2 separate regions of the Homo sapiens genome follow, and region 2 is linked to region 1. The links come from fine-mapping of genetic effects on gene expression. Tissue or cell type: tibial nerve. Region 1 holds a variant in brackets; the other region holds the start of a gene. All regions are shown on one strand. Distances are between the middles of the regions.

Region 1 (2,681 bases):
GTATTGTAGTTTGTGTTACCTGTATTCTCCATCCTGGAAGATACAGCAACACCAATCTTGACCAAAAAAAAACAAAAAACAAAAAAAAACTCTCTTCCCCCGTGTTTGTAGTCACTGACCCAATTATTTAGTGCATAGTACTTTGCTTCTGAAGCAAGATTCATGCCCTTTGCTCTCTATGGTTCCTCTAACCACAGTTTTCTTGCTGGCTGGTCTAGGTTCTCAAGAAGGAAAAGGAGCAGACACCTACCTATGGCAAAGATGGCAGCCTGTGCAAAGTCCGCAGACACATCCGTGCAGTACCCTCGAAGCTCCTCTAGCACCTGCTGCACATTCTCATCGTTCACCAGTTCACACAGCACCTCCACTTTCTGTAGTTTGATGTAGTGGGGCTCCGAGTAGGAGCAAAAAAACTTTTTGTAGTGGCTGCTAAAGTGACCTGGTAAACTATGCAAGATCTGGCGTACATGACAAAGAGCAACAAAACAGAGCTCACGGCTCTCTGAAGAACAGGCAGCTAGCAAAGGTCCCTTGACCCGCACAAGGACATCAGTTTGTACGTGGGGAAACATTTTTGCCAAGATCAGAAAAAGTTTGGTAGCTCCCATCACCACACCTGGGCTACTGCTCTTGAGGAAACTATCCAACAGATTGAGAATGTCAAATAGTTCTTCCTCACTGCGGGGTTGGTAGCGTAGCAGAAAGTTCAATACTTCAGCCTGGCCCCATTGGTCCAGTTTTGACATTCTATCCAAAAAACAAAACAAAAGAGCTATTTTAGCAACAAAATTAGGACCATTTCCATGCCACTGCCATATGACCAGGTGGTTGTTCATCATAGCAAAGGGAGAATTCTTAAAAATAGGCTGTGCCATAATTAAGTCACTTTTCATGTACTATTTAAAGTTTACACAAAAAAGGCTTAAAATTCCAAGATGAGTTGTTAATACAAATGCACACTCCTCTAAGACCAAAGACATGATCAGCATACACTGGGTCCAGGTTCCTTACATTTTAAGACACTATAAATGGCTTAGTTTGGGGGACATGACTAGAGAAGGGTAGAACCTATTCCCACAGTATATTTCTATTTCCCTATATCAATAAGGGAAAGTAAGGCAAATAAAAGAAATTCTCTCAGTGGAATGTGAGGGAGTTAATAGTGGTTAACTGGCCGGGCGCAGTGGCTCACGTCTGTAATCCCAGCACTTTGGGAGGCTGAGGCGGGCGGATCACCTGAGGTCAGAAGTTTGGGACCAGCCTGACCAACATGGTGAAACCCTGTCTCTACTAAAAATACAAAATTAGCCGGGCATGGTGGCGCATGCCTATAATCCCAGCTACTCGGGAGGCTGAGGCAGGAGAATTGCTTGAACCCAGGAGGCGGAGGTTGCGGTAAGCCGAGATAGCGCCATTGCACTCCAGCTTAGACAACAAGAGCAAAACTCCGTCTCAAATAATAATAATAATAATGGTTAACTTTCTTTTCTACCCCACATAAGTTGTTCAATACTTTAATACATCAACAAGATCCCACAAGGTAGCAGATCTCATAATAAAAAGAGTGCTGAGGCATCCAAACCGATTTAAGAGATGGTGAGCAATGGGCTTATTGATGACAAC[G/A]CCTCCTTCCTGTTTCAGAATTTCCTCTAGAGACCTCAAGCAGTTCACAACTACAATTGGATCCTGGTCACGCAGCAAACTGTATAATTCATTTACCAGGGCACCATCTATAAAAAAGAACAAAGTTCTTAGATAAAGAAGGAAAGCTTCAGAGTAACAAGGATGTAGCCAGAGTAATAGCTCCAGGTAGACAAAGTTGAACTTCTCTGCTACAAAAATGACAAAGGCCACACTAAAGTGCAAGGCAAAAAAAAAACTGCCATGTCCAGACTGTTCTAAGCAGCTAATACAAAGGATCTCATTGGGGCCCCAGAGAAAGGACTTCTCATCTCCAGAAGATACCAAGCCCTGCATCCTACTTAAAGAGATATGTACAGAACTGGGGCCACATTATTATTTTCTACCAAAGCCACACAATCTTTTTTAAAGTTATACATAATGGAGGCACATTGACCATGATGGATTACACTGAACTTACCTACTTCAGAGTCTCCATGAAGATTATGCATCTTGGCACATCCAAGGACTGCCACTCTCCTGACATATGAAGCCTTATCCCGCAGACCATTGAGAATAGGCTGTTGTATATACTCCTGCACACCAGGCATCCTAAGCAACACATCCTGGAGTTAGCCAGATTCTGAAATACTAATTTTGACATACCTCAGCCCCTGTTCACCTAACAGATGGTTTAGTAGATGCTGCACCCATCAGATCATGAAGAATTGCAGAAAGCCTCTATCAAGCTTAAAAAGCCATAATTTGACTTTTCTGTTTTTTTCTTGTTTTTTTCAAGATGGGGTCTCACTTTGTCACCCAGTGGCCCGATCATAGCTCACTGCTGCCTTGAATTCCCGGGCCCAAGCCATCCTCCTGCCTCAGCCTTCCTAGTAGCTGAGACTACAGGTGCGTGTCACCATGCCCATTTAATTTTTTGTAGATATAGGCTCTCACCATCTTGCCCAGCTGGTCTCAAATTCCTGGGCTCAAGCAATCTTCCTGTCTAAGCCTCCCAAAGTGCTGGGTCTACAGGCATGAGCCACTGTGCCCAGCCTAAT
Region 2 (2,681 bases), 89 kb before region 1:
AAGTGTGCTAGACAGAATCAAATGCAACTGAAATTCCGGCCTCTACTATCTACTGCACAAATTCCCACTTTTCAGAGGCACTGTTGGTCCTATTTCCTAGTATCAAAGGGTAGAGAAAACCTTCCACATGCCTATTCTAAGAATTTAAATAGCTAATATGAAAACTTTAAAATGATTTTTACCTCTAGATTAAAAAGAACCAAGATAAACTGCGTCTGATATTTTACCTTGCAGAAGCTAAGTCAACCAGTGAGTCGTGTAACCTTTATATGAATTCCCTCCTGAAAGACTGGAACCATACCCCTGACTATTCTGGAGCAAGGGAGAGCAGATAACTAAAGCTCTCCAGCAAGCAAAACAAGGAGAAGGGATTTTAGGAACATGCCTTTTCTTTGGAAAGGCATTTTTTAGTACCCCACCTACTAATCTAACGCGGCGCGGAAACCTTGCAGAATTTGAAAACAAATGCTGAGAGGCTCCGGGGGACCGGTAAAGGGATTAGCAACTGACAGCTCGGCCTCGGAGCGAGAAGCCTCAAGTAGTTAGATCAAACCGTGTCAACGATCTGAAATCCAGGGTCCACCCCAGTGAGCTTAGAGAAGTACAGCAGCAGAAGGTAAGCAGGGGTTTGGCGTCTTTCAGTCCTAAAGATGCGGGATATCGGAACTGAGAGAGACCTAGAACCCAAGCCGGGCAGTTTGCCTGCTCTCACCTCTCTTGGGGGCTTTGATCAGAGGCACCCCTCCAGTCCTCTCGCCGTTTTCCTGCTTGTCCTTGTGCTTGAGATCGGTTCCGCAGGAGCTGGGATCACCATCGGGGCCGCGGTGGTGATGGTGCTTGTGCCGCTCCTTGTGGCCCTTATGCTTGGGCCCGGCCGCGCTCACCGTCAGAGGCGAGAAGGTGAAGAGGGCCGAGGTGCTTGGGGCCGGGAGAGGGGCAGCGACAGCGGGCCCGGCGGGTGCCAGCGAAGGTGGCGGCGGAGGCGGCAGGAGAAGAGGCTCAACAGGGCCTGGGACAGTTGGGGCTGCATTCGTTGGCGGCAGCGGCCCAGGATGTTGGCGGCTGCGACGCCGCCGGTGAGGGGGAGCGAGAGGGGGCTCCTGGCTCGGCCGCCCCCGCTTCTCCTGAGACCCCCCACTGCTAGATCGGCGCTGCCGTTTAACTCCCCGCGGGGAGACCCCAGCATGAGGTTTCTCCTTCCCCTCTTTGTCCGGCTCCTCCTGCGCCGCCACCGCCCGTACTACGCGCACCGCTCCGACCTGCGCAGCCATTTCACCCACAAACACACATTTAAATGGCCCGACCGCCCCCCCGTCCGCGCATCGCGCAAGCGCCGCCCGCGCACTGCCCGCTGGGCATTGGAGTCTCTCCTCCGCCCTCCACTTGTCGGCCGTTCTTCGTCCAGAGATGAACATGCCGGAAGCGGCCGTTCCCAGCTTTTCTCCGCAGGCCTCTCCAACCGAGCTTCTATTGTAAAGCACCCTATGCCGCGCAAAGCGTCATGGGAGCTGTAGTTCCGCCGCGCCCCCGCCGCGTCCCCGGCTCTGAGTGGAGGAGTGGAAAGGGAGCGTGCGCGAAGTCACGCTTCTGGCTGCGACGCAACCGCCGCTGGGCGGTGAGTTGCCGCCAACCGCCCTAACGGCCGAAACAATGTTAATGGCTTTCAGAGTCTGGCGGCGCGTTCCCATTATCATCTTCCTGTGACCCTTCCTCATTTTACACGGAGGAGGTGGTCTCCACAGTGATTTTAAATTTAATATTTCTCTCATAACCTTTGTGAGATAAAAGAATCTTCATCCTTTTAACTTTGACGAGGGATGAAATGAAGGTGAAAAGAGGATTTAGTAATATGTAAAATAAGGGTGGTTTTGCTGTAAAAATATGATAGGGCCGCAATTCAGAAATGTTTTCAAGCATCTGGGGCATTGCTATGGTTACAACTACAGGCCTACGAAGTCAGGTGCGAGAACTGCTTGGAGTCCTGGTGAGGACGGCCCCTCCTCGCCATCCGGCCACATCCCCTCTAATGCCTGGAAATGTCCAGCATTTATTTTGAATATATCCCTACAGTTGCGAAAAATTGTAGATGGAAAACCACGTTTAAGATTTTTTATAAGTTTTTTTTTTTCAAATCTTAAGGATAAGATTGCATAAATTTGAAAAGTGTGCCTACCGGAGAACACACCAAAAATCATCACTGCTCACTACGGATAGTTGTTGCTCAGAAATTCATTTAGAATTTCATCCTCGCTTTAGCTTTTACCTGGGGTTCTTTTAAGTATTTATTTAGAGACGGGCGGGGCGGGGCTCGGTGTCTCAGGCCGGTAATCCCAGAGCTTTGGGAGGCCGAGGCGGGAGGATTGCATGAGGCCAGGAGTTCCAGATCAGCGTTGGTAACATAGTGAGCCTCTGTCCCTACAAAAGTATTTTTTAAATTATCTGGGTGTCGTGACACGCGCCTGTAGTCCCAGGTACTCGTGAGGCTAAGGTGGGAGGAGTGGTCGCACCACTGCACTCTGGCCTGGGTGACAGATCTAGACCCTGACTCTTAAAAAAAAGAGACAAGGTCTCGCTCTGTTGACCAGGCTGGCCTCCAACTCCTGGGCTCAAGGAATGAGTAGCTGGGTCTACAGATGCACTCATGGTGCCCTAAGTAACTCATGGTTACCTAGAATTCTTTT

Which allele goes with the higher level. Alleles are on the strand shown, and positions count from the first base shown. SD is a standard deviation of normalised expression in the study named.
For the expression in tibial nerve of the gene that starts at base 1,615 in region 2, allele A in region 1 goes with a higher level than allele G (small effect, 0.30 SD a copy in GTEx).

What was found. PIP is the estimated chance that this variant, and not a neighbour inherited with it, causes the effect.
Region 2: AP4B1-AS1 starts here. The variant in region 1 is fine-mapped to the expression of AP4B1-AS1 in tibial nerve (GTEx, PIP above 0.99). The same link has a PIP of 0.9 or more in sun-exposed skin.

Annotation. Positions count from the first base shown.
Region 1 is chr1:113,899,654-113,902,334 of GRCh38, forward strand. AP4B1 (adaptor related protein complex 4 subunit beta 1) reads right to left here. Exons shown (of 10, transcript NM_001253852.3): 3 at 2,102-2,232; 4 at 1,583-1,730; 5 at 251-747. It overlaps AP4B1-AS1 (AP4B1 antisense RNA 1), which reads left to right. Exons shown (of 5, transcript NR_125965.1): 5 at 219-1,584. Among named protein-coding and RNA genes, the nearest start is that of AP4B1, 3.8 kb to the right of the region's middle. The variant G/A (reference allele first, on the strand shown) is at 1,624.
Region 2 is chr1:113,810,998-113,813,678 of GRCh38, forward strand. AP4B1-AS1 (AP4B1 antisense RNA 1) reads left to right here and starts at 1,615. Exons shown (of 5, transcript NR_125965.1): 1 at 1,615-1,828. RSBN1 (round spermatid basic protein 1) reads right to left here and starts at 1,479. Exons shown (of 7, transcript NM_018364.5): 1 at 713-1,479. The coding sequence starts at 1,415. RefSeq lists enhancers at 290-819, 544-603, 754-843, 820-1,349, 1,224-1,613 and 1 more.